Regions from separate parts of the Homo sapiens genome. Here regions 1, 3 and 4 are each reported to be linked to region 2. The links are microRNA targets in miRTarBase. Many come from high-throughput screens and were not tested one by one. Region 2 holds a microRNA gene; each other region holds the end of a gene's coding sequence.
What was found. Region 2 holds the annotated microRNA hsa-miR-4668-3p (GAAAAUCCUUUUUGUUUUUCCAG, at 2,892-2,914, shown strand). A microRNA usually pairs through its seed, bases 2 to 8, with sites in the 3' UTR of a target mRNA and lowers its output. Matches are read on the target gene's strand: a 7mer-m8 pairs with bases 2 to 8, a 7mer-A1 pairs with bases 2 to 7 and ends in A, and an 8mer does both.

Region 1 (7,113 bases), not on the chromosome of region 2:
CCATGTTTTAGTTAGCTAATGTTTTACCGCTTGGTAATATAAATAGCCACTTAGAATTCAAGTTTTCTAAGTTTCCAATTTCATATTTTCCAAAAATCAACACTTATTCTTTTAAAGACATTTTACTTCCTCCAAACATTTGAAATAGCAGTTATGACAAAAACATGATTATCTCAATAGATGCAGAAAAGGCCTTCGATAAAATTAACACCCTTTCATGCTAAAAACACTCAAAAAACTAGATATGATGGAACATATCTCAAAATAATAAGAGCTATTTATGACAAAACCACAGCCAATATCATACTGAATGGGCAAAAGCTGCAAGCATTCCCTTTGAAAACCGGCACAAGACAAGGATGCCCTCTCTCACCACTCCTATGTACTGGAAGTTCTGGCCAGGACAATCAGGCAAGAGAAAGAAAGCGTATTCAAACAGGAAGAGAGGAAGTCAAATTATCTCTGTTTGCAGATGACATAATTGTATATTTAGAAAACCCCATCATCTCAGCCCAAAAACTCCTTAAGCTGATAAGCAACTTCAGCAAAGTCTCAGGATACAAAATTAATGTGCAAAAATCACAAGCATTCCTATACACCAATAATTGACAAACAGAGAGCCAAATCGTGAGTGAACTCCCATTCACAATTGCTACAAAGAGAATTAAATACCTAGGAATACAACTTACAAGGGACGTGAAGGACCTCTTCAAGAACTACAAACCACTGCTCAAGGAAATGAGAGAGGACAGAAACAAATGGAAAAAGCATTCCATGCTCATGGATAGGAAGAATTAATATTGTGAAATAGTCATACTGCCCAAAGTAATTTATAGATTCAATGCTATTCCCATCAAGCTACCATTGACTTTCTTCACAGAATTGGAAAAAACTACTTTAAATTTCATATGGAACCAAAAAAAAAAGAGCCCATATAGCCAAGGCAATCCTAAGCAAAAAGAACGAACTATACTACAAGGCTCAGTAACCAAAACAGCATGGTACTGGTACCAAAACAGAGCTATAGACCAATGGAACAGAACACAGCCCTCAGAAATAACGCCACACTTCTACAACCATCTGATCTTTGACAAACCTGACAAAAACAAGCAATGGGGAAAGGATTCCCTATTTAATAAATGATGTTGGGAAAACAGGCTAGCCACATGTAGAAAACTGAAACTGGGACCCCTTCCTTACACCTTATATAAAAATTAAGTTGATAGATTAAAGACTTAAATGTAAGGTCTGAAACCATAAAAAACCTAGAAGAAAACCTAGGCAACACCATTCAGGACATAGGCATGGGCAAAGACTTCATGACTAGAACACCAAAAGCAATGGCAATAAAAGCCAAAACAGATAAATGGGATCTAATTAAAGAGCTTCTGCATGGCAAAAGAAACTATGATCAGAGTGAACAGGCAACCTACAGAATGGGAGAAACTTTTTGCAATCTATCCATCTGACAAAGGGCTAATATCCAGAATCTACAAGGAACTTAAATTTACAAGAAAAAAATCCCATTAAAAGTGGGCAAAGGATATGAACAGACACTTCTCAAAAGAAGACATTTAGGTGGCCAACAAAGATATGAAAAAAAGCTCATCATCAGTGGTCATTAGAGAAATGCAAATCAAAAACACAATGAGATACCATGTCACATCAGTTAGAATGGCGATCATTAAAAAGTGAGGAAACAACAGATGCTGGAGAGGATGTGGAGAAATAGGAATGCTTTTACACTGTTAGTGGGAGTGTAAATTTGTTCAACCATTGTGGAAGACAGTGTGGCGATTCCTCAAGGATCTAGAAATAGAAATACCATTTGACCCAGCAATCCCGTTACTGGGTATATACCTAAAGGATTATAAATAATTTTACTATAAAGACACATGCACACGTATGTTTATTGGAGCACTATTCACAATAGGAAACACTTGGAACCAACCAAAATGCCCATCAATGTTAGACTGGATAAAGAAACGGGCACAAACACACCATGGAATACTATGCAGCCATAAAAAAGGATGCGTTCATGTCCTTTGCAGGGACAGGGATGAAGCCGGAAACCATTATTCTCAGCAAACTAACAGGAACAGAAAACCAAACACCACATGTTGTCACTCGTAAGTGGGAGTTGAACAATGAGAACATATGGACACAGGGAGGGGAACATCAACAATGGGGCCTGTCGGCGGGGTAGGGGGCAAGGGGAAGGACAACATTAGAAGAAATAGCTAATGTAGATGACAGGTTGATGGGTGCAGCAAACCACCATGGCACATGTATACCTATGTAACAAACCTGCATGTTCTGCACATGTATTGCAGAACTTGAAGTATTAAAAAAAAAAAACAGCAGTTGCTTAATGAAGATTGTCTATCAGTTATTAACACAGACCTTTTTGGGGATGATTGCTAACTTTCAGGACCAAAGGCCACTAGGTGATGCACTCAAATGACTACTTAATGCAATCAAGTGGTTGAAAGATGCATTTCTGGAGTCCATACTGATGTAGACCAGTTTGGCGTTGAGACTTTGGCTGTATTTTTGGCTAGTTTCCATTCACAAAATATACCTAGCTGTTTACAAGGGGACTCAGTGACAGTACAAGAATCTAAGTGTAAATTCAGTGTTAAACAGAAAAATGACTCAAGCCAGTGAAACACATTTTTGTGTATGATTAGTAATTTATACTCAGCTTGGTCATTGGCCTAAATTTTGTAATTCTTACTGAAAAGAAACTGTATTAGTCTGTTTTGCATTGCAATGAAGGAATACCTGGGACTGGTTACCTTATAAAGAAAACGTTTATTTGACTTGCAGTTCTGCAGGCTGTAAAAACATGGCACCAGCATCTGCTCAGCTTCTGGTGAGGTCTCAGGGAGCTTTTACTCATGGCAGAAGGCACGGGGGGAGAAGGCATGTCACACAGAGAAGGAGCGAGAAAGAGAGGAGGTGGTGGTGCCAAGTTCCTTTTAACAACCAGCTCTTGCAGGAATAAACACAGCAGGAACTCATTACCACTGGGGAAGGCACAAAGCCATTTATGAGGGATCAGCCCCCATCACCCAAACACCTCCCACCAGGCCCCATATCCAACACTGGGGATCATATTTCAACATGAGATTTGGAGGGGACAAATACTCAAACCATATTACAAACTTCTTCACTAGAAGAATTTGGGTATATGTAAGTAAGTTTTCAGTATATGTGTAAAGTAGAATATTATCAGAAAGGTTATTTACTTTTCATCTTCATTATCAATTTTCTATAGGTATCATAAAAATTTAAAATGCATTTTGTTAATTTAATCTTTTATTATTTCTTAACAGTCACAATGGAATAAATGTGCCTACTTTAAGACATCTATCTGGTTTTGTTGGCAGATTTAAGGACTAACACTAGACTAAATATTACACAAATATTCTATTCAAATGACTTAAAAGTGCTACCCTTTTACTAAAAATTTTATCGTACTAAACATCTTTGAAATGTGTGTCCCATAGGAAATGTGTTTTTTTGATAACCGTACTTCTAAAAAAATTCCCACTTTGAGCACTGTCAGAAAACAGAGCAAATTTAAAGAAAATTTTGAGAATATAAAATTACATAAACATTTCATTTTACTTTTCCTTTATCTTAATCATATACCTTTAAATAAAAAAGCTATGAAAGACCTAAATAAAATTTGAGAAATCAGAATAGACAAACATCATTAATGCCCAAAACATAATTTATTTATTAGAGATGGGGTCTTGCTATGTTGCCCAGGCTGGATTCAAAATCCTGAGCCCAAGCAATCCCTCCTGCCTCAGCCTCTCAAGTAGATGGGACAATAGGCGCACACCACCATACCTGACTGTAAGCCACATACTTTAAATGGACCTAATTTCCAAGCCTGGCTGCCTGATAGAATGTGCTTTGGTCAGCTAGAATTGATACCATGTTAGAGGGTCAGCTGCACACAAAAATGGTGTTGCTGAGAGAAATGGCACATTATACCTGGTACTCCTTAGAGGTGCTCTATCTACTGTATCAATATAGCCATTAAAAGCTCAATCTGCCAGCTGTTTTTGAAAGACCCAATAATACTGTTATGACTATATAAGATAACCTTGATGTATGTCACTTTATGATACGTGTTTCTTAACATGACTCCCAGGGGGCCCTGGCTTAGAGCTGATTCCAAAGGCACACAGCTTAGGTCAAATTATAGGACACATAATATTTACTATTTTATTTACTGCCTAAAATGTTTCTCAACAACTAACAAGTACAGGAAACATTTATAGGTAGTAATGTAAGTACCTTATGAGCTCAATGACAAAACAGTGAATTACAGACAGTTGGAAGATGGGGACCATGTCTTAGATTCCTTTTGAACACTCCTCAGTGTCCAGTGTGGTGATATGCACATAACCAGTATATTTTAGTAAGTATTTACCCAAGTAAGACTTCTTTAGGCATTCCATTTTGGGATTCTTGTAGAAAGAAGCCAATTTTGTAGAACTCCTAGGCTTTAAACATTCGAGAATGAAAGGCTCTTGCCATTACTGATCATAATTCAAAAAGCTGGTGTTAAGTGTGACAAGTGGTGACTGTTCCATATATGCCAACAGGCATACAGCAGAATCCAGACAGAGTATATAGTAGCGAAAAAGATGGGAGAATATGAAGAACAAAGTCTATTTTAACATTAATTATGGCTATAATAACCCTTATGAGGAAATACTGGTGAGCAGGATAAAGTGATATTGAAAAGAAAAAAAGGAAAACTCCTCAAAACACAATAAAGCATATTCTAACAGGTTTTTGAAAAAGTTGCAAGCCTTTTAATTCATTGACCTCTTTTGACTGATTGGAATTTTTACCATTCTGTACACTCTGAATTATAACTAAACAACTACATGTTACTGACAAATTTGTGATTCTTTGAGTCTAAACAACACAGAAACTAGAAGATCCCTTTCCTAGATTTATATACTTGATTTTCTTATAAAAATAACTTCAGTTATTATGTCAATATTTATCTGAAAAAGGCAGCCCTCTGACAGTAAACTAGTAACTGGAATAACTACAGTATCATTATAAGCTACAGTAAAACAACCTGTAAAGTAATTTTTCCTATTTGAATAATAAATAGACTGGACAGGAGTGAAAAACCAAAACTACGAAAGAAAAACCCAATGTAAATAAAGGATACAGGTCAAAACAAAGTTCAGAAGGCAAATATGTAAATATTAGATGCCTCAAAAATCAACTATCAGTGGGAAAATTTCTATGAAAGCAATTTCAGAAAATACATGAACACATATATCTTTAAAATATAGAACTCTAAATACTTGATAACATATTTAGGATACTCTACAATGCCCAGTTAATTGCTATAATTTTTTTCCCTCAGGTTTTCCTGGATGATACGGCAAACTACAGAATTTGTGCACTTACTGTTGCTCAAATTTGTGTACTTACTGTGTGCACATATACTGCTGCACTGTTTCTCGGCTGTGAAAAATTAAAAGCATTTTTTCAACCTTTGAGAAGGAAAGAAAACAATGAAGAATCTCCTCATAATAATACAGCATAACAGGGTTTGTTTACTGTGCCACATCATGGGTGTTTTTAAAACGAAATATAAATATATGGTTAGGGATAGCATTTTTAGGAGAACAAGTGACCAAAAACTAAGTTACCTCTTTTCAGGTCAGCCAAAAAACGTGAAGGGAAAGTGGACTTTATACAACTTAGACATTTATGTAGATAGCACAGCAGACTCATGTTCAAGCCAGCCACCTGAAACATTATAAGTCCGTCGAGGGGGACAGCAATCTATGGTCCATGGACTGAATCCAGCCTACTTTTGTATGGCTCTGAGCTAAGAATCGTTTTAATATTTTTTAAAGGTTGTTAAAAGCAAATAACAAAGAATACATGATGACTCTATTCTTGTTCTCATGTGTGAACCATATATTATAGCCTGCAAAGTCTAAAATATTTATAAACCGGCCCTTTACAGAAAAAGTTTGCAGACCCTTCTTTTACACCAGTGCTGTAGATAATTCTGGCAGTACAACTGCAAGTCTAAGATAATGTTCATTCATTCCCATCATAAATGTAACATTCTAAATAGGTGTCTTCTGATGTCATCTGTCAGAATTTCTTTTAAACTTTTTCTTCATCTTCAACATTATCAAAGTTCATCCTATAATAATAATGTAAAGGCGATAGAGAAAGGAGAAAGTATGAGTTGGTAATGTTAAAAATAAGGTGAAATACCACAAACCAACATTTTACTTTTTCAGAAATACTCAATATTCTTATTTAATGGATCATGACATGAAATATACTTTGCCAAAATATAACAATAAAAAAGAAAAGAATATCCTAGTTCTTACCTGCTCACAGCAGATATTACTAACTATATAGGTTTACATAATTTCAAGCATATTGGGTATTCTCTTTAACTTAATTTCAGGTATGATATTTTAGATTATGACAATTTTTAAATTTCAAATATTTAATGAGATAAAAGTTACACCTTTCAAAATAAAATATCTTGAGAAAACTAATATAGCGAAACACTAGAAAAACATGTTTGTTCAGTGGAACCAAGAAAATACAGACTCATAACTCTTTCCTACCTTTCAGATTCGTAAAAAATATTCTTGAGGTAGGTTGTAAGGCTTTGTCTATTGGGGTCTGCAGTTTGAACTGGATTACAGTAGAACCTATTGTCTAATATGGTGCTATAAAGCCAGTCTTCTCTAGCCCTTTCCAGAGGCTGAGCTATTTTGTCCTCCTTTCGCCTCATAGGGAAAGAATCCGAGATACCTCATGTGATTGTATTAAATTCCATTTTAAAAGCACTACAACATTCATAGACTCTTTGTTCTGTTTTTAAGTATGATCTACAGTAACACCGATTTGAAAAAGGTAAAACTGAACTGCCTTCTGAAGAGTAACAGGAAAAAGGTTGTGCTGCTTCTTGACAGATTAAAGATTCAAAGAGGGGCCAACACAAATATGGGTTTCAATACATTCTGATTACACCAAGAACAAAAGAAAATTTGCTATTCAAAACGTGTTATGAGGCTCCAGTATATTTAT
Region 2 (7,120 bases):
AGTGATATTTTTACCTTATTTTGTATCTAAATTAAGTTTTATTTGGATGCATTTTTAGCTTACTAACTGTGCTTGCTCTATGAAAGCAATATTGTCTACCACTTTTTATTCAGGTAGTCTACGTAAGAATAATAAGATATTCACTCAATCATACTTATAAAAAAACCATTGGGAAAAACAGTTCGTGAACACCATGCTTTTAACATGAAATTCTAATCATACACGTTTGTGGTTTTTTGGGCAGGTATATTTTGGAACTTCACATCCAAGATACTATATCTCTGCCAATGTAACTGGTTTCAAATGTGTGACAGGAATGTCTTGTTTAATGAGAAAAGATGTGTTGGATCAAGCAGGAGGACTTATAGCTTTTGCTCAGTACATTGCCGAAGATTACTTTATGGCCAAAGCGATAGCTGACCGGTAAGACAACTAAATGAAGCCATAGTATTTTTATTACCTAACTTCTGTTGGTTTATTCTTTTTGTTCAACCTATAGATTAGGGCTTTTTAATTTAATTTTATTTTTTTTGCTAGTAAGTACAGAATAGGTCAATAATTTTATTATTTTGTTTGTTTTTGAGACAGAGTCTTGCTCTGTCACCTAGGCTGGAGTGCAGTGGCGCGATCTTGGCTCACTGTAGCCTCTGCCTCCCGGGTTCAGGTGATTCTCATGCCTCAGCCACCAGAGCACCTGGGACTACAGGCATGTACCACCATGCACACTAATTTTTGTATTTTTAGTAGAGATGGGGTTTCTTCATGTTGGCCAGGCTGGTCTTGAACTCCTGAACTCAAGTGATCTGCCCACCTCGGCCTCCTAAAGTGCTGGGATTACAGGTATGAGCCACCACACCCAGCAGATCAATAATTTTATAGAGTAATTCATATTCTAATTATAGAATTGTAGATATGTACTAATGAAGAAGGTAAATGTTCTGATTCCTCTACATTTTTCAAATTAATGTGTTTTAAAGCGATTAAAAGTAAGTTTCTCTGTGTTTAGAATTTTTACTATATAGATACAAATTTCTGTGTTTTAGAAGAATTAAAACTATCAGTGCAGTCATAAACTAGTAGGTGAAAATTTAAAGACTATCATTTCAAAATTTGAAATTTGTCAGTGAATTATATGATACTTTGCTAAGAAGCCACTGAAAGATTCATATGACTGACTTAGCATTTCTCTATCACAAAATACTTGTTTTGTTTTGGTTTTTTTTTTTTTTTTTGAGACAGTCTCGCCCTGACATCCAGGCTGGAGTGCAGTGGCGCAATCTCGGCTCACTGCAGTCTCCGCCTCCTGGGTTCAAACGATTCTCCTGCCTCAGCCTCCCAAGTAGCTGGGATTATAGGCACCCGCCGCCACACTCAGCTACTTTTTTTTGTATGTTAGTAGAGGCGGGGTTTCACCATGTTGGCCAGGCTAGTCTTGAACTCCTGACCTCGTGATCCGCCCGCCTCAGCCTCCCAAAGTGCTGGGATTACAGGCATGAGCCACTGCATCCAGCCTAAAATACTTGTTTTTAAAGGAGATCACTGCCTTGTGTGAGAATTCTTTTAAATTTTTTAAAAACTGAAGTGTGTTTTAAATACAAATTCTGTCATGATTGTGTTCATGTGGTTCATGGTTTCCTAGTGTCTCCCATGAGATCCATAATGCCACTTTCTGTTTACATGTCTTGTTGTTTGGTTAGTAGTCATCAGAGACTAATCTATTAAATATGGAGCCCTCTCCATTTTTTTTCAAAATGACTGCATTTTAAGTTTCTTAAATTGTAAAGTAAGGTGGGTACAGTTTCTTCTAGTTCTTAGATGGTGCTGTCACGGGCCAGCATAATTGCTAAAACATCCATACGTATGGTAGACCTTAAGTCATGTGCTAATCATGAAAGCTGGGCTCACCCTGAATACCGGCAGTTGCCTGGTCTTTATAATGATTACTGAATGCATAACCAGTTACGCTTGCATGTGTTCATCATCATAACTTATTTTCTAATTATCTTAATTTTCAGAGGTTGGAGGTTTGCAATGTCCACTCAAGTTGCAATGCAAAACTCTGGCTCATATTCAATTTCTCAGTTTCAATCCAGAATGATCAGGTAAATCAACTGTTTTCTTTTTATACTTCGTTAAAAGGAAAGTGGGGAGGGGGGTGGTAATTTTTACAGGTTTAATGTAGTTAAATGAATGTACCTAAAGGTTGAAGATTTTTGTTTAGTTGCAGAAAATAGAGTTTAACGTCTGTGTTTAAGATAAATTTAATGTCTAAATGTATTTTATTTGCTGTATAACACTGAAAGCACTCATTAGAGAAATGTTGAGACTGAATTTTTTAATATGCTGATCTTTATTTTCTAACTTTCTGTGCTGATTAAATTTTATTATCTGTATTCATCAGAGCGTAGGCCATACAAATGAATTTAAAGACATTTTTCTTTGACATCCTAGACAAAAATAGAAAAGAGAGTCATTAAAAAAAATTTTTAGGTTGTGTGTGGTGGCTCACACCTGTAATCCCAGCGCTTTGGGAGGCCAAGGCGAGAGGACTGCTTGAGCCCAGGAGTTTGAGACCAGCCTGGGCAAAATGGTGAAACCCTGTCTCTACAAAAAATGCAAAAATTAGCCAGGTGTGGTGGCGTGTACACCTGTGGTCCCAGCTACTTGGTGGGATGAGGTGGGAAGATCGCTTGAGCCTGGGAGATTGAAGCTACAGTGAGTGCCACTGCACTCCAGCCTGGGTGACAGAGCAGAACCCCGTCTCAAGTAAAAAAAAAAAAACAAAACAAAAAAAGTTTAAAGAGAATGGTCTTTCTATCACAGGGTAAAAAAATTGATTATTTGAGGGAAAAAAAAAAGGATTTGTCTTGTAGCCAGGATATTGTTTTAAAGAAAATCCTTTTTGTTTTTCCAGGTGGACCAAACTACGAATTAACATGCTTCCTGCTACAATAATTTGTGAGCCAATTTCAGAATGCTTTGTTGCCAGTTTAATTATTGGATGGGCAGCCCACCATGTGTTCAGATGGGATATTATGGTATTTTTCATGTGTCATTGCCTGGCATGGTTTATATTTGACTACATTCAACTCAGGGGTGTCCAGGTATGTGGATAGGCATGAAAAGGTTGGCAGTCCCTTGGTGGAACTAGAACTATTTCAATTTAGAAAAAGTTGAAGGAAATGTATCTGAGCCATTCTTCAGCTTCCCATTGTAGGTTAGTCTCGGGTTTGAACATGACTTTCTCTAGTGGAATGTTGATGCAAAACTTAAGTCGATTTGCAACTTTCTATTGGTTATATAATCGCTTTTATTAAGTTTCCAAAAACATGAAGTTAATTAAATCAGTGAGTATTGAAACTAATAAGACATTAAGATAGCAGTTATTTTAATGCTTCATTAACAATTAGCATTTTCTTGAACGGTATAACATGGCAGTTAAATTACATAAGGAAGCAGACTTGATTTTACATAGTATACTTAGAAAAGTGAAATCCAAGAATTTAATTTTTTAACCTTGTCTTTAGTTTGACAGTGAGTGAAATTAAAAAATTTTTTTTTCCATTCCTAGGGTGGCACACTGTGTTTTTCAAAACTTGATTATGCAGTCGCCTGGTTCATCCGCGAATCCATGACAATATACATTTTTTTGTCTGCATTATGGGACCCAACTATAAGCTGGAGAACTGGTCGCTACAGATTACGCTGTGGGGGTACAGCAGAGGAAATCCTAGATGTATAACTACAGCTTTGTGACTGTATATAAAGGAAAAAAGAGAAGTATTATAAATTATGTTTATATAAATGCTTTTAAAAATCTACCTTCTGTAGTTTTATCACATGTATGTTTTGGTATCTGTTCTTTAATTTATTTTTGCATGGCACTTGCATCTGTGAAAAAAAAAAAAAACACATCTGTAGTCTTGGCCAAATGATACACTTTATTTTGTGGAAGTAGAGAATCAAGAGAATTGGTTCTAGGAACCTGGGTTCGTTCATCATTGTTGTTTATTTTTTTAAAATAAATAAATAAATATATATATAGATGCTCTGCAACAAACTCTGTGACAGTATCCTTCAGTAGAGAAAGTTTCTTACTTGTGAGTACACTCTTTTAGAACATTTACGGGTGGCAGCAGCTTTGCTTTAGAGTTTAGAAGATAATAGAAGGAATGACTATTCATGTCCAAAGTGAATGGTTTTGTGCAGTGAACAACACATGGCGAGGTACTAACTGAGAAACTTTTTCATGCTTTATGCCTACCTCTTGTAGTTGTTGCAGAGCAAATATAAATTGTAATAAGATAGCTAGGCCTTGCAGAAACAAACAGAAAAACTTAAAAAAAAATGATATAAGAGCTGGAGTCTAGTATTTATATGAATCTGTGAGAGATAATTTTTTTGGTCTCACTGCAATGAACCAAAAGCGGCTGAGTTTGGTTTTTAATTGTAGCCATGTATTGAAGGCATCTTTTTGACCAACTCTTGTTGGTTCTGTCTTGAACCATTGTTAATCACTGTGCTGTAATTAGTATAGCTAAATCTTTTCCTTCCTTGCTCCTCCCCCAGCCCACCCCGTCTTCCCTTAACATTTTTTCAGGGGGGGTTGGGAGTGGTTTCATTTTAGTGTGAGTGGATGTTTTGATAGTTGTAAGGAAAAAATGCATTTCAGACACATTTCACACATGAGCTATTTTCTTACACAGTATGTCTTATTGTTAATAAGAATGTAATTTCATGATACAAGTATTTAATACCTTTTTTAAGTCAGTAAATATTCTAGCCATCAATAAATTGCAGTAGAGTATTAAGAGGGGACAGGATGAGTTTACTCTTAAAATTAATCAGTATCAAACTAAGTCTACTGTGTGTGTTTTTTTTTTTTGTTTTTTGTTTTTGTTTGTTTACTATTATAGTAAGTCTAGTCTTATTTAAATTGGATTTTTGTATTCAAGTTTATATGACAAAATAGACTAGATCAGCGCTGGTTGTAAATGCATGCTGTACCTCACTGTTTTCTCCCCATCATGCCGCTAAACTTGCTCGCCAGGTTGTGCTTAACTTGTGGTGAACTGGACTTGATTCTGTTTTGTTTTGTTTTTTTAAAAAAAAAAAACAAAAATGTAAGGGACAGTGCATAAGCCTTTTCTTTGTTAAGTAGTGGTGTTTTGCTTTTTCTTCAGGATTGGATGGCATGTTGTCCACAGGAATGCCTACTGCAGGGCTAACACTGGCAATATGGCAGCTTTAAATTCTGAGTTACTACAGTCTCCATGTCAAAGCATAATGTGTAGCATATCAGCAATAACTACATATTTATAGAAAACACTTTTTCACTTTACTGAGCCAATTCATTTAATTGTCAAATGTCTATATCCATGGTTTAAATGGCAACATATCTATAAGTATGTATACACATTATATTTAAGCTTTTCTCTGGGCCAAACTGCTTCATCCTTTTTTCTTTCTTTTTTTTTTTTTTTAGCCTTATGATGAATTTGTTTGAAGGGCATTTTCTTTATGAACAAAGGCTTGGATGCATATTCCTTTCTTTCTGTGAATGGGTATTATTCCCTGAGGAAAGTTGCACAGTGAAAACCAGTCTGGTTGTGACCCACTACATGTTTTGTTTTTAATCACTATTACCTGAGTTGAACTTTGCTCACCATGTTTGTACTTGTTGGTCTGTTTAATGAAGTTTGGTTGATGCCATCCTTTGCACTGCCGAAGCGTAATCTTGTGTATTACTTAGCTCTCTGCTGATCTCAGTATGGACAGTGTAACAACAAAACCAAAATGGCTGGACAGACTTCTTGTGTTTTGTAAATATAAACTAGGACAGTTCTGTAGGTTTGTTCAGTGTGCTAGTGGAGTATTTCCTTAATGTAAAACTTCACTTAACAGAGAGATTCTTTGTTTAGCAAGCTTGGAGTGATGATAAAATGGTAAGAAATAATATAAATGTTGAAGAAAGCATCACAACAGAACTATAGGAGTCTAAATTTAATAAATCTTTAAAAAAAACCAGTGTCTAGAATATATACCATGTTTTATTATTTAAAATCATTGTCTTAAATTTTTGTTCAAAAAATAAAAATTTGAATACAATCAAAACGTTAGCAATAGTGTATTTTTTGTTCTTCTGTATTTTTATAAGTAGCATGTTCCACCATTCACATCAGAATTATTAGAAGAGTTCTGTCAAGTATTCCTTTTGAAATCTTCCTTTTACCTGAGCCATAGGTAAAATAAATAAGGACATAGGCAGTCCTGTGACTTAAGTATGGCTTTTCTACATTGGTTGCCTGTTAAAATCACCTGGAGAACTTGTAAAAAAAAAAAAAAATACACAACACACACCCTGGGCCCTGTACACAACACACACACACACCCTGGGCCCTGTACACAACACACACACACACCCTGGGCCCTGCCCACATAGATTTTGGTGTAATTATTTTGGGTGAGGCCTGAGCTCTTCTACCCGTGATTCTACTGTGAGAATGACTGGCTCGTAATGACCTTTAGAAAAGAGCCAGTGGTCCTTTGGGCCCCTCTCCCCCCGGGCTCACAGCTTGAACTCAGCCTTTTAGATCTTACCACTCTAATGGCTAGAAAATGTAAATCCAAAGGAAGGAATGGAGTGGCATTATTACTTGAGACCCAGATGGGAGATGCACCTTACATACTTTCCAAGGCCAGGTCCCTCCCAAGCTGGAAGCCTTTACAGGCCTGTTTTACCACCATCCCATGAGAAAAGAATGTTCTTAACTGGAGAACAAATCCGGGGTAGAAAGAATCCGCTCTCAGCTGATATTTTTGTCTCTCCGTAGTTCCTGTGTTGAAACCTAATGCCCAATGTGAGGAGGGTCTTTCAAGGTGAGGCCTTTGGTAGGTGATCAGAGCCGTCAGGATGGGATTGATGCTTATAAAGGAAACCCCAGAGAGCTTTCTTGCCTCTTCCGCCATGTGAGGATACGGCAAAAAGGTGACCAGCTATGAACCAGAAAGTCAGCTTTTACTAGCCACTAAATCTGCCAGGGCCTTGATCTTAAACATTCCAGCCTCCAAAACTGAGAAAGTTTTGTTGTTTATAACCCACCCAGTCTATGGTATTCTG
Region 3 (7,120 bases), not on the chromosome of region 2:
GGCTTTGCTAACAGTGAGGACCTGGAGGCTTCTTTCTCCCTGAATGGCATCCTCTTGCCAGGCTCAGGATCCTGCTGTGTGTAAGGGCCAGTAAAAGCATCTGCACCATTTACACCTCACTTTTGACTCACTAAATCCAAACCCCAGCCTTCACCAAACACAGAGAGCTAGGTCAGGAATCCAGCCCTTTCCCACAAAAATAATAGTCACATGGCTGGGTGTGGTGGCTCTCGCCTCTAATCCCAGCACTTGGGGAGGCCGAGGCGAGTGGATCACTTGAGGTCAGGAGTTCGAGACCAGCCTGGCCAACGTGGTGAAACCCCATCTCTACTAAATTCCTGACCAGGTGCAGTGGCTCATGCCTGTATTCCCAGTGTTTTGGGAGGGTGAGGCGGGAGTATCACTTGAGGCCAGGAATTTGAACCAGCCTGGGCAACATAGTGAGACCGTGACTCTACAAAATATAAAATAAAAAAGTAATTGGGTGTAATGTGTGTCTGTAGTCCCAGCTACTCTGGAGGCTGATGTGGGAAGATTGCTTGATCCCAGGAGGTTAAGGCTGCAGCCAGCCATGATTGCACCACTGCACTCCGGCCTGGGAAACAGAGAGAGACCCTGTCTCAAAAAAAAAAAAAAAAAAAAAGCCGGGCGTGGTGGCTCATGCCTGTAATCCCAGCACACTGGGAGGCTGAGGTGGGCAGATCACCTGAGGTCGGGAGTTGAGGACCAGCCTGACCAACATGGAGAAACCCCGTCTCTACTAAAAATACAAAATTAGCTGGGGTGGTGGCGCATGCCTCTAATCCCAGCTACTCGGGAGGCTGAGGCAGGAGAATTGCTTGAACCCAGGAGGCGGAGGTTGCGGTGAGCCAAGATCTCACCATCGCACTCCAGCCTGGGCAACAAGAGCGAAACTCCGTCTCAAAAAAAAAAAAAAAAGGCCGGGTGCAGTGGCTCACACCTGTAATCCCAACACTTTGGGAGGCCGAGGTGGGCAGATCGCCTGAGGTCAGGAGTTTGAGACCAGCCTGACCAACATGATGAAACCCCATCTCTACTAAAAATACAAAAATTAGCTGAGCCTGGTGGCGGGCACTTGTAATCCCAGCTACTAGGGAGGCTGAGGCAGGAGAATAGCTTGAACCCGGGAGGCAGAGGTTGCACTGAGCCAAGATCGTGCCACTTCACTCCAGCCTGGGCGACAGAGTGAGACTCCATCTCAAAAAAAAAAAAAAGTCACTTTACTCCGATGCCAGACTTTCAGGAAGAAGCTTATTTTCACTTCTCCATTCTTAAAAGTGGAAACCTCCCTTGCCCTGCATTCCTCTTTTCTGTGAGTCCCTTGAGGGCGTCTCCTCTCTCCTCCAGCTGTCTGCAACCTGTCAGGACCCCACACAGAGCTCAGCTTGCCGGCAGGAGCCTGTGACACGTGGACCACCCCATCCTCTGGAAACACTCCCTTCACTTGGCTTCCAAGACACCTCCTTAGCCTGGGAACCTCAGGTCCCTACTCCATCAACATCCAGGCCCTCACCGAGCACCCGCAGGTGACTCCAAATGCATCCTTCCCAACCCCAATCACTGCAATCAGACGTGCAGAGCCGCTTTTGGACAGCTGTCTGGAGAAGTCCTTTAGGCTTGAAAGAAGGGATTCGTGATTGACTTGAGAGTTCCAGAAAAGGATTAATATACCAATACAGTTTTTATTTATTTATTTTTTGAGACGGAGTCTCCCTCTGTCACCTAGGTTGGAGTGCAGTGGCGCGATCTGGGTTCACTGCAATCTCCGCCTCGCAGGTTCAAGTGATTTTCCTGCCTCAGCCTCCTGAGTAGCTGGGGTTACAGGCATGCACCACCACGCCCGGCTAATTTTTTGTATTTTTAATAGAGACGGGGTTTCACCATGTTGGCCAGGCTGGTCCCAAACTCCTGACCTCCAGCAATCTGCCCTGACAGCAGCTCTGATTAAGCAACAGGGAGATGCTAGGGATGGGTAAGGGGAGTTATGCAATGGACCTGCCCAACTTCAACTCCCACCATCAAAGCCCTAGAGGTCAAGGGGCTCATCCTGCGTTTCTGGGAAATGCCGTGCTACCTGTCGGCCTCCTCAACTCCCTATGCGTTCTGTGGCTGAATTTTGATGTCACTAGAGACACAGCCCGGCACAGAGACCAGAACACAGGTTTCTGTGCCGTCCTCACCACTGGGAGGCTGTGACCAGGCCTAGTCCCTGAACGTCTGGGGGTGTCTGCTCATCTCGTCTCAAGACACGTCTCTCACGATGCATTGGTTTGGGATTCGGTCAAACAGAGAAAAAACAAGGTCCCTGGCACTGGGCTGGCTTCCTCTCCATGCAGCCCTTTGACAACCTGAGCATGCTTAGCTCATTTGGAAACCAGCAAATGCTGAGTTTTCTTGTTACTATCCAGCTTTCCATCATTCGGCTGCTTTTTCTTTCACCCTTTACATTCTGTACTTTTCATTTGCTTAATAGATTCTAGTCCAACAAATCACTTTGTAGGCATTATCTCCTTTAAAAGGCCCTATTTCCAAAAGAAGAACATGTGAGAATGAACATTTAAAAATAGTTACTCAAGTGACTTCATTGTTTGAGAATCCCCATTAACATATGTGGCCCGTGTTAATAACAGTGTGTATCACTCTGCGGCACACAGCAGTTTCACATTATTGCAGCATTCCGCTCCTGCTTAATGTGCTTTTTTTTCCAGGTGATGGGATTTTGCACCAAGTGAAATAATTGGTAATATTGAGGATCATCCATTTTTTATTACCTAGAATTCAGAAGTGATCAGGACGGGCCTGGTGTGACTCTGAGATGATGGGCTGTTGGGAAGTGTGATGTGATGTGGTACTGTGCGCTCTCCAATCCTCCGGGAAGCAGCATCTCGGCCCCTGGGGGTGGGGGGCACGAGGCCGGCCCCAGGGACCCTGTACTTGTACAGCCCGTCCGCAAATTCAGGCAGGACATGCGGTCGCAGTCTCACCCTGGGATCACTGACCACAGGCCCAGTGGGTCCCTGTCAGTCTTAAGAACTTTTTCTCCCCATCTGCCCATGACACTGTGGAGAAATGAAAAGCTCTGTCCTGCCCAGCTTCCCCGAAAAGAAAGTCTGGCTGAGCATCTTCACATGGAGCGAGAAGACGTTTGCTTCATGAGGCCAAGAAAAGCCAGTTACACACACACCGACGTCTTCAGGGCAGGCACATGTTTCATGCTTATTTATTCAATCACCGCTTCATGCTGTAGGGTGAACCTGATCAACTATCTAAATTCAGAAGAAAATGTAAAAAGTTGTCTGATAAAAAAACAGTCTTTACTCTCACAGAACACTTCTGATGCAGGATGGGAAAGTGGCTCTCCTTCCCCACGTCACACGATGCTCCGGCGGACACTGAGCATCCTATAATATCCTGGCATATGCCCTGCCACCACCCACCTGGAGGCAGCATCAGGATCCCAGGGCTGAGGGCTCAGGCCCACGAGGCTGCCCGCCCCGGCAGATGCCAGGCGCAAGTAGTGGGCTGTCACCTACGCTTCTGACCAACTACAGAGCAGGAACTCCCTCTCCAGGTTCAGCTGATTTGCCAGAGCAGCTCTGAGCTCGGGAAACGCTTTACTCACGCGTGCCCGTTTATTATCAAGGCTGTGACAAGGGCACAGAGGAACGGCAGATGGAGGTGTGCAGGGTGAGGTGTGTGGGAAGGGGACCGGGAAGCTCCCATGCCCGCTGGGTGTGCCACCCTCGGGGAACCCCCATGAGTTCAGCAACCAGGAAGTTCTCAGAACCCCAGGCCTCTGGGGTTTTATGGAGGCTTCATTACGTAGTCATGACTGATGACACACCACTGGCCACTGGTGATCGACTCCACCTTCTACCCCCACCCCCCCAACTTCCTGGAGGTGGGGGAGGGGGAGGGCTGAAAGTCCCCCCACTCCAATCACCAGACTGGTTCCCCGAGCAAGCACCCCCTCTCCTGAGGCTGTCCAGGAGCCACCACAGATGGCCTCATTAGAACAAAAGATGCTCCCATCACCCAGGAAATTACAAAGGCCTTAGCAGCTCTAGGCCAGGAGCTGGGGTCAAGGGGTCAAAGAGCAAATATGAAAATGTGGGCTTCTCCTCGTGCCCTATCTACAGGGGTTGCAGGAGTTCTGTCCCAGGGATTTAGGGCCCAGACCACATCTGTTTCTTATCTCATCACAATATCACAGGCTGGTACCCTGATGACTCTGTCAACCCTCCAACTGACTTTCTGGAGAGAATTTCCCTCGTAACATCGAGGGTGCACCTAGCTAGGAGCAGGGGCTGGCGGGACAGACGGAGCGGATGGATGTGGTTACTCACTCACCGTTCACACAGCCCGGGGCATCAAGGGCACAACGCACCGGAGGAAGGATCCGAGAGCTCTCCCGACGCCACCTGCCTTTCCCCTTTTGTGCAAAGGCCTTATGAAGAAAATCTGTTTGACACCATGGGTTATTTTTACATGTGATATATCCTGAAGACATGAGTTCTGTCTCCGGAAAGTGGTATCCTTCGTAGCACAAGGCTTTTCGAAACCTGCCCCGTTTTTTTTAACCTGGGCTCACAACTCCGGCCCCTCTGAGATCCAGTGATACCATGAGTGTCATCTGTATTCACTCTATCCTACTTCCACTGGTTGAAATGTCTTGTATTTTTCTATAGTTTTTCTATACTTTCTATTACACAACGAACAACAACGTGAGGGTTTTTTGGTTTGTTTTTTGTCTTCTCCAAATGCTGAAACTACCCTTCCATGCAGAGGAGGCTGCAGAATCAGGAGACGCGCCGGAGCATCCGAGGGCTGTGCAGGAGCGCACTTCCCCACCCTCCCCTCAGTTCCCGACTCGGGAAGCTCTGCGCCTTCTACACGACAGGGGAGGAATCCACACGCCACACCAGCAGCGACTGAGGACAAACCACGCAAAGAACCGGCTCATGGATTTCGCATTTGAGATGCTTTTTATAATAAAGTTATGCCAAAAATACAGCAACAAATACAGAAAAAGTATTAACAAACGGAGAAGCCCCAGATACACGTACAGTAACAATACAAAAATGTGACTGGTCAAACAGCTCAAGTTCACATTTAACACTTTCAATTATTTTTAATTACACTATTTCTGTTCAAAAGAATGTTTTCCTTACATACAACCATGATCAGTCTTTAGTCTCAATCGTACCAAAATAAAGCTATATATAAGCACTCTGACTAGGTAAGGTGTGAAGTACCCCGTGAGTTGCTCTGTGGCTTGAGATGGGACACATGGTCTCAAATGACTCTTATGCATGCCTTGCCTTAAGAAAGAAAAGTAATGTTGATGGTTTAAAAAGTAAGTACTTTTTGAAGCAGCAGATGAAATGTGTTTACTACCAGCCTAAATCAAAGAACATGGCAAGAGCAAGATTGTTCTCAGGAAGGAAACCATAAATATGGCATTTATGTAAAATCCTTGCAGCATCTGACCATGCTTTTATCTTTAAAAAAAAAAAAATCCTCACTTTCTTAAATATAAGTAACAGTTTATTAATTTTTTTTTTACAGTGAGATATGGCTATGGGAAGCAGGTGATACTATTTGTTTAAGAAACTGGGATGCCAACTAACACGTGGAGTTCCCCAAGACTTTGCAATCTCCATTTGTGAGTTTCTGTAAAAAAGGGAACCCAGCTAGAGGATTCACAGAGACCTTGAATGACAAGCGACATACTCGAAATCTGCAGCTCTCCTCCCGGAGGGCCCAGCGTGCCAGGAGACACGCTGCAGTAAGGCACTTACCAAGCTCCTTTGGATAGAGGGAAAGAAGAAATCAATCCAGGCAACATGCAAGTTTCAGTGAAGTCAGACATTTTATGGGAATTTAAAGTCTTGCCTGTTCTCAGTGCACCCCAGTCAGTTACTGACATGTCAGCCTCAGAAACCGCACATGGCCTCAGGAAGGTCAGGCCCTCCTGCTGGTGGGCACGCCATTGGCTCTTGATCGCTGATGGTCTCGATGATGGTCATATTTCACAGAAATAATGAGGAAAAGCAGGAGGGTAGCTCCTTGAATAGCAGCCAGAAGAAAAAAGTAATAGTTCAAATAGCAGCCGTTAATATTACCTGGAGAAAACAAAAGGAAAGCGGCAGGTAAGCTGCGCTGCTACAGGTATTTTTTCAAGACTTTACTATTTAATCTGGTTCCCACTAAGGTTTAACTGGAGTCATAAAAAAAGTAACAAATGTTGTCTCTGTAGTCCAAAATGCACAAGCATCTTGCTTTCAAAACCACTGAAGAAGCTCCCTGAAGTCAGATACATCGCCACCGGGGGCTCTGGAGGTGGGCTGTCTGCAGCCCCCCACCTGCCCCTAGCAGCCCATCCCTCTCTTCTGTAAGGTAAAAGGAGGAGGTTCCCTGAGGAAACTAGAAAAGGTAGCTCCCCAGTACTCAGGAAAATCCCTGCGTGGCCTGCAGACACACATGCGGTGGTGAAGGGGACAGTGTCGACGGAGAGTGTGCCTAAGGCCGCACGACAAGGCTGCAAATCAGGAGCAAGGGGAAACCTGCCAACCCAGCCTCCTGTGACTGCTAATCCCCCCACACCAGAACAGCTGGGCAAAGTAAAAAATTACCTTCCTGTGTTCTTGCCACCAGAAACAAGTGTTAGCCGGTCTGGTGTTATTTCCTTCCTGCCTTTTCTGAGGCAGTGTTCCTCTCCTCAACTACTTCAGGGGAACTTCCTCCATTTATAGTTATGATTGGCCTGGAACTGCATTGTTGAGGAAGGCAGATGCGAAGATAACAAAAGAGCGCCTGACTATCTCTTTATCGAATCCTGAGGTGAGCGTCTTTGTAACTTGGCTATGGAACCTGTGCACTTTTTAGCATCACAGATTGCACTATGACACAGCCTGAACATCGTGAATTCTGGATTCACTGCATGGGTCACTGACACACCCAACACACCAGGGCCGACAGCTGGGCAATGTATCAAAGGAAGAGATGAGCTGGTTTCTGAATGTGTCTTAAACATGTTCAGGTTTTAGCATCCTCAAACTGACACAAGCAGATACCTCTGCATACTTTAATACAAAGA
Region 4 (7,120 bases), not on the chromosome of region 2:
TAGGATGGGCATGGCTTATGTAGCCTAGGGTTCTCCATCAGAGAACAGTGGTGCCTCCTACCATATTTTAGCACTCAGGTGTAAGATCCTTGTTCACGGAGCACTTTCCATGGAATGGGTCCTGTGCCAGGGGCTGGAGGATGAATCAGACCCCACCTGGCCCTCAAGGAGCTTAATGTCTACAGAGGGAGAGAGACCAGTAATGAATCACGTAAGAGGGAGGCAAATGATGGCCAGAGTTAGTACCAGGTGCTGTAGGAGCAAAGTGGACTGGCACCTAACATAGCCTGGGGCTCAGGGAAGACTGCAGAGAGGAGCTAACCTTTGAGTGGAGGCCTTAGGATGAAACGGGAGAGTGGGAAGCTGAGAAAACAGCACAAAGGAAACAAATGGCAAGGACCTGGGAAATGGCGTGGCATGCCAAAGGGGAGTACGATCCCGCTGGAGTGAAGTGTTTCTCTGCATGCTTCTTTTGGGAGTGTGGGGTGGAGGAGATGTAGTTGAAGATGCTTACAAAGCCCAGGGCTTGTATGCTACATGAAAGAGCCTGGGCTTTATATTCTAGAGCCAGTGGCCCAGGGAAGTGATGCAGATCTGCACTGGAAAAGACTGTTGCCTGCAGGAGGGAATACAGACTAGGGTGGGGATGGACATGGTGGTAGGGGCAGATGCACTGCCCAGGGTAGGGATGGCAATGGCCTATGTCATCGTCTTTCTTAGCTCTCTTCCTAAAAAGGAACCCATGGGGAAAGGACACAAACCAACTCTCCTCACCTCCTCTCCGCAGCCTCTTTCCATCCTTCCCCTTCACCTGGCCCCCTTTCTTCCTGTGCCTTTCAGGTCTGCTTTGAGGCTGCTGCTGACAGGCCTTGATTCCTCTGCTTTCTACACTCGTGGGCCTCCCCTTTCTCTCTCATCTTCCACACCACTGCCCGGCTCTCTTTCCACTTCTATAAGGACCAGGGGTCCCTGGGCAAGGGTCTACCCAGCAGTGCCAGCACACTGGAAAGGCAGTGGAAGCTGGTGGAGAGTGGAGAGCATGTGAGCTTTGGGGTCTAACAAAACTAGTTTCCAATTCCAGCTCCTCCATTTATGACTAAACCTCCATGTTCTCACTTTCTCCCTACCGTACAAGGACAGCATTGCCAGTCAGCTAATTGTACTTTGATGGGGATTCTAAGAGGTAATGGGAGGGATTTGGCTCCATGCCTGGTGTGCAGTTGGAGCTACTACTTTGCTGATTAAGAACCTGAGGCAGCAAGATAAGTGACTTTTCTAGGCTGCTAATCTTCTAGTCCACAATTGCAAGACCCTGCCTCATTCATAGCCTGGGTGCCCAAACACTGGCAAATGAGGAGATCCACCTGCACTGGCTGCCAGGTCTGGCTAGCTGTACAAAGACTGCCCAGGGTAGGGATGGCAATGGCCTAGGTCATTGTCTTTTTCAGCTCTCTTCCTGAAAAAGAACACATGGGGGAAGGACACGAACCAACTCTCCTCACCTCCTCCCCACCAGCCTCTTTCCGTCCTTCCCCTTCGCCATATCTGGCCCCCTTTCTTCCTGTGCCTTTCAGTTCTGCTACCCCTCCCTATCTGGCTACCTCTCCTCTCCAGAAACAGCAGCCCAGGTGAAAGCCTGAACAGGGCCTCTGTCCTGTGTAAAAAGGGCCAATCACAGTCATCATGGGCTGCTCAGCAGGTAGCCTTGGAAAAGCAGGTCTGCTTCCAAAGGGTAAGGCTATCTTGTTCATGGTCCGACCCATGCTGGGTGCAGGCCTGTGCTGAGAAGTGCTGGTGCAGAGCTGGCCCTCAGGAAATCTAGGTTGAGTGGGCCTGAATGTGTTTGCCTTCTCCAGCTCAGTCCTCCAGCCTAGCCCAATGCACTTTGGGTACCAGAGAGCCCAGCAAACGTGCCCGGCAGACAAGCCCTCTGCTAAGAGCAAATGGCCTGCTGGGTCCCTGGCAGAAGTAGGCAATGTGTGGGAATTCAAGGGCAACCAGCCACGCAGCTCCCAGGACAAAAGTGTGCTGAGAAAGCCCAGCTGTCCTTTGAGGGTCTTCCACAGTACGGAGGGCCAGAGGCCCCTTTTGTCTATTTTTCAAAGCAGAGGGCCTTCTGAGAGGGTTCTGGGAAGCAAGGCCAGGACTCCTGGGTTCTCATAAATCTTTTAATAACAGTAAATGAAGAAACATTATAACAGTAAGCCCCATGGTGAGGGTTCCTTTTCATTCAAGGATCTTCAACAACAGAAACACCTGAGACTAAAATTCAGAATGCTAAGTACACAAATTAATGACCATTTATTTCCAAAGGCGACTGCAGATACCATTTCGGTACAATCAAAAGGTTTTACAAGACAGAGAAAACACATTACAAAATGCCCCAAGAGGTGAGCAAACTGGTGGGGGCACAGAGCACGCAAGAACCAGCCTGACAAAAATCCTAAGCCTGCTGCTGTTTAGGGAGAGTACAAAGACTGGTTCTAAGGGAAGCCACTGTGTGGGGGTTCAGGGGAGACAGTGACGGGTCTGCCCAGTGCATAGCAATCCCAGCTGGGAACTGAGGAAGGACAGGGGTAGGGGAAGAGGGGCAGAGGCATTTGCTAAGCTCCTGACAGAAACCATTACAGATCAGCCTATCACATTCTCTTCACTACAATAACACCAATATAAATGAAAGATTCTTTAAAATAGAACACAAAATGGACACCAAAAGAAAGCAAGAGTTTTCAAAACAACAGCTTTGTTTGAAATGACTTTTGTTTTGTTTTATTTTTCATGGGGCTTTGTCTGTTTCTTGCCATGAGTAGCAAACCAGTGTACAAAAATGTCACAGACGAGAGCAACAAGCGACTAGGTTTTCCTGAGCCCAAATCAGCTCACTCTATATACACAAAAGGAGGGCTGCCTCCCTGTCACTGACTCTACCCGCCACAAAGCGGGCAGGATGGGCAGTGGGGGGAGCTCCTTCCCAGCCTGGGGCCTTGCCAAGGAGCCCACAAGGGCCTGCAGGAGACCCTCCATAATCAGCGTCAGTGTCTTGTCTAACAGCATCACACATGGTCCTTTTTTCCTCCTCCCCTACCTCCCCTTCAGTAGAAACCAGTAAGAAAATCCTCTTCAGGAGGGGACAGAGGACTCTGGGTCAACATCTACAAATCCAAGGAAGTCTTTTTGGCAGAGGGAAAAATGGCCCTTCTGCCACTCCCTGAGCCACCTAGCTTACCCCCAGGGCACTGCCCTGCCCCAATACCAGTGCACAGAGACCTGCTGACAACTTGCTCTCTGTGGGGAGCTGTGCCCACTTCATAGGACACTGAATTACCAATGATCACAAATATAAAAACCTCAACAGAGGCTACAGCAAAAGGGGTGATCTGACAGCTAGACTGAGGTACTGTACGGTAAAGTTCGCCGATCACCCTGGTTAGCCCGGCGACCCTGCAAGCAGCTTCTATGAATGCGATGAAGTTTGAGGAGAGAGAGAGAAAGAGATTGCTGACTTGGGGAGACTGAGTCTGTGGCTTCAGAACCCTGCATGCCTTCACAGGCTGACAGAGGAACATGTTACTGTTGTGCCTCTGGGAGGAAGATGGGCCAGATCATCTTTGGTGTACAAAACCAAATACTGAGGGCAGGGAGGACCAGAAGCAGGCGTGACTGGGTCTCTGCTATTTGGAGTGGATGCCACAAGTTGGCCAGCTCCACAGACTGTTCTTGGCCCACATCCCTGGCCAAGGCTACCTAGGGGCTGGAGGGAGTACTCTTTTCCCTTCCTAAGGCCATTTGAAAGGAAACTGCCCTCTTCTACAAACACCCTCACACACGCGCAGAGCTCCCACACGCTGGCAAATGGCACACGGAAACCTGGCTGGGGAACTGGCTTGGCACTGACAGGAAAGCCCTGAGGAGGAGCTGGGAAGACAGCCCCACTGGCCACTGGGTGTGCAAGCTCCAGCTTCTCCCTCACTCCTGTACCAAAGCTGGGGCAGTAGAGGGCCGGCACAGGGCAGATATGAGGGCTACCCTATAAGGTGGGCTACCCTGTAAGGCAGGCTGCCAAGAGTCTGGTTGGGTTGCTTCTCTCCACGTTGGCTTGGCCCAAGATAAGAGTGAGATCTGGACCAGTTCAGATGCCTTATGCTCCCCAATGCCCCAAATACAGGCCATGGCTCCTTGTGAAGCCTATAGACTGGGCCCCCTCTATTCTTTTGACCTACATGTTTCTGAGCCAATCTGGCCCCCAAAAGCCCTGCATGCCCCCTTTACTTCTTCCTTCCTCTGACAGGTGGATCTGTCTCTGGCTTGGCCATGCCAGGCATGTGGCTTTTGCTTTCTTCTCTCCTTCCAAGCACCAGAAAGTGCCCTCCAGAATGGGGTACTAAGCTGTAGACAGAGCAAAGGCAAGCTTGTGGAGGATGTCAACATGGGGAAGGCTCGAGCAACCAGGCAACCTGTGCCATGCCACAGAAACGAGGAGGAGGAGAAGGCCTACACAGTCACACCCCTATGACATTCCGGAGCTAGTCTTCAGCTGAGGCACAGATCCTCTGCTGGCAGCAACTCCAAGTTCTGGTGGAGGACAGACCAGGCCCCCAGGGGCTCCTCCCACAATCCCCTTCCAACTTCTCCTTTTGTAAAGAGGCCAAGGGGCACTGAGGCCTTGTGTATTTCCTCATCAGCTATTCCTACATGTAGCAGTTTGACGGTGGGCAGGGCCAATCCAGCCATTCAAGGAGCACCTTCCCTGGAGGGCCACCCTAAGGTGAGAGGCACTAAGAAAAGTTTGGCCCTGCCTTCAAAGAGGGCCAAAAACAAAGCTTACGCATCAAAAGGAGCTCAGGAGAGTAAGAGCACTTGGTGCCCTCCCCTCCTGCTCCCCAAGCCCTGGGGATTGATAGCCTCAATGCCCGCAGGCCTCTGCAGAAGGACGGTCCCTCCCAGGGTTGCTTCCTATAGGTCCACTTGCTAAAATTATGACCACTGAGGCACCGAAGCTCAGTGTAGGTCAAACACGGTCAAACTGGAAATACTGGAACTGGTCTAGGTCAACTGTGTTGCCTAGAGTGGGACAGGGGAAGGGAGGCTCATCAGACAAAATCACCAAATGAGCTTTTCTGTTCTTAAGCAAATCTGTTCCTAGTGGGAGTCAATGTGGAGTCAGCAATGCCCAGCCACTTCCTGCCTGCTTGAGGTCCGTGCATAACTGAGCTGAAGTCCTTCAACAAAAGCTCCTCCTTGTGGAGCACCTGAACCTCCACCCATGAGGACTTAATTCTTTGGCAGCCCCCTTTCAACCTAGACATGGGATTTGGGGGTAGACAGGATGAGGAGGACGTGATGTCCCCCACATTAAACAATTCAGCACTGAGTGTGGATACACTGAAGAAATCTGGCCCTAGGGAAACAACACTGGCCCTGTAAAACCAAGAAACAGATCTACAGAATCTTCCAGAAATGGGCCCTGATGCGAGGATTCTCCAAACTCAAAAACCAACCAACCAGCCAATTCCAGCTCATTCTTCCCTGAAGCTGCCTGAGAGAGGGAAAGAGGGAGGGAGGGGGGAGGGGGAGGGGTGGGGGGAGAGGGAAAGGGAGAGGGAACACATTTAAGGGGCACTCAAGATTAAAATGGTATCTATTATCAACATTTTCCTAAAACAGAGTGTATGATTCAAATCACAGTTTTCTGTGCTCACTTCTGATTGGGATATGCATCAGTTCTCAACTCTCACAGGCAGAACTTACACAGGGTCTGGCCTAGTACTGTATATATCTTGACCCTCTTCACTTTGGATTTGTCATTGCAATAGATCTCCAACCCTCTCAATGGAATCTAGCCCTTGGGCTGGGTGGTGCTCTCACCTCCCACCCCAGGCAGCATCCTGGAGGGAGTGGCTGGTTGGCTGTTTACTTTGAGTCATGGGACACCAGTGACCAGAATCTGGCTGGTTCTGTCTTGACCACGAGCTGTGAAATCCCTCGGCTCTGGGCTTGCCGCTGGTATAGAAACAAGGCCTCAGTCCCCCGTGGTAAGGGCTGTGCTGGAGACTAAATGGGACGCCAGCATAAGCCTGGAGGTCCCTGGCAGTGGAGAAATGAAACACAACCCAATCTCATTGCTTCGATGCCAAAAGAACTACTACTTGTTGTTCCCTTTCTCCTCAACCAGCTGTTGTTAAAGCACCGACAAGCAGAGTGAAAGAGCCGCTCACTGCAATCTCCCCATGTAAGGCCACTAGGAGCAGAGAGAGAGCCAAAGGGAAGGAGGAAAATCCAGCGCCCAGCACTACACCCCAGGCTCAAGGAGACATCGTAGGGGGAAGAGCTGGGAAAGGAAGAGTGGTAGAAGAAAGGGACAGAAAGGAGGAAAAAGAAATACACCAAACATCCTACTGCCCTCTCCCATGATTTTATCAAGAACTGGGTGTTCTCCAAGTCAAGTCACGACTTGCTTCCTCAGGGAGGAAAAAAAAAAAAAATAAGCACCTTCAGTCTATTTTCTTGGCTGGAAGCCGGAGCAAATCCAGCAGATATTTACACAAGGGCCCAGCCATGTATGAGAACAGGATGACCAGCTTCCCGTGGGTCATGGTCATGAGAGTCTGGTGTCCCGAGGCCCAGATGCGATACCAGGGGCCGTAGAATGGGTCTGAGATGGCCGGACACAGCATGTTGTTCAAATTCACTTCGGTGACCTGCAGGGACAAGGGAGGTAGAGTGAGCGTTCACCATCCTTAGGCTTTCTCTGGCTTCTGCCAGTTCAGCCATCTCTACCTAATGGGGGACTAGACAAGGAGGGATTGACCAATCCCCACCTGTTTATAAAGGGATTTCTTCTCTCCCCTCGGTTTTCTGAGTGAGTCAAGCTAGAGGCCTCTGGAGGTGATGGCGGAGGGCCGTCTAGTGGAAAAGCTATTCAGTTTTGCTCACGGTCTTGCCTTCTGTTTGGGCCCAGAACTTGTTGCCATTCCTGAGCATCTACTATGTGCCTAGACCCCGGAGAGGTGTTACAGGCTAAAAGTACAGCCCACAGCGTGGGCCCTGCCTCCACGTAACTGCAATCAATCAAGTGGGGGTGGTCAAAGGTTTACTACATCTGACCCCAAACCAGACAGGG

Region 1: the mRNA of DNAJC10 is a reported target of hsa-miR-4668-3p. Seed matches in the 3' UTR shown: 7mer-m8 at 3,787-3,793 and 7mer-m8 at 1,518-1,524.
Region 3: the mRNA of SLC15A4 is a reported target of hsa-miR-4668-3p. Seed matches in the 3' UTR shown: 7mer-m8 at 5,536-5,542 and 8mer at 5,490-5,497.
Region 4: miRTarBase lists TMEM164 as a target of hsa-miR-4668-3p. Seed matches in the 3' UTR shown: 7mer-m8 at 6,272-6,278, 7mer-m8 at 3,111-3,117 and 7mer-m8 at 2,438-2,444.

Annotation. Positions count from the first base shown.
Region 1 is chr2:182,776,216-182,783,328 of GRCh38, reverse strand. DNAJC10 (DnaJ heat shock protein family (Hsp40) member C10) reads right to left here. Exons shown (of 24, transcript NM_018981.4): 24 at 1-6,208. The coding sequence ends at 6,197. Among named protein-coding and RNA genes, the nearest start is that of DNAJC10, 64 kb to the right of the region's middle.
Region 2 is chr9:111,929,256-111,936,375 of GRCh38, forward strand. It overlaps MIR4668 (microRNA 4668), which reads left to right and starts at 2,845; the gene lies at 2,845-2,914. UGCG (UDP-glucose ceramide glucosyltransferase) reads left to right here. Exons shown (of 9, transcript NM_003358.3): 6 at 245-423; 7 at 2,016-2,102; 8 at 2,915-3,104; 9 at 3,572-6,114. The coding sequence ends at 3,742.
Region 3 is chr12:128,788,211-128,795,330 of GRCh38, forward strand. It overlaps SLC15A4 (solute carrier family 15 member 4), which reads right to left. Exons shown (of 8, transcript NM_145648.4): 8 at 4,984-6,146. The coding sequence ends at 5,986. Among named protein-coding and RNA genes, the nearest start is that of SLC15A4, 32 kb to the right of the region's middle. RefSeq lists enhancers at 1,406-1,505, 3,570-3,659, 3,658-4,158, 3,710-3,869, 6,934-7,073.
Region 4 is chrX:110,172,823-110,179,942 of GRCh38, reverse strand. It overlaps TMEM164 (transmembrane protein 164), which reads right to left. Exons shown (of 7, transcript NM_032227.4): 7 at 2,155-6,698. The coding sequence ends at 6,492. LOC124905230 reads right to left here and starts at 4,170. Exons shown (of 2, transcript XM_047442708.1): 1 at 4,126-4,170; 2 at 2,155-4,027. The coding sequence starts at 4,170. The coding sequence ends at 3,545.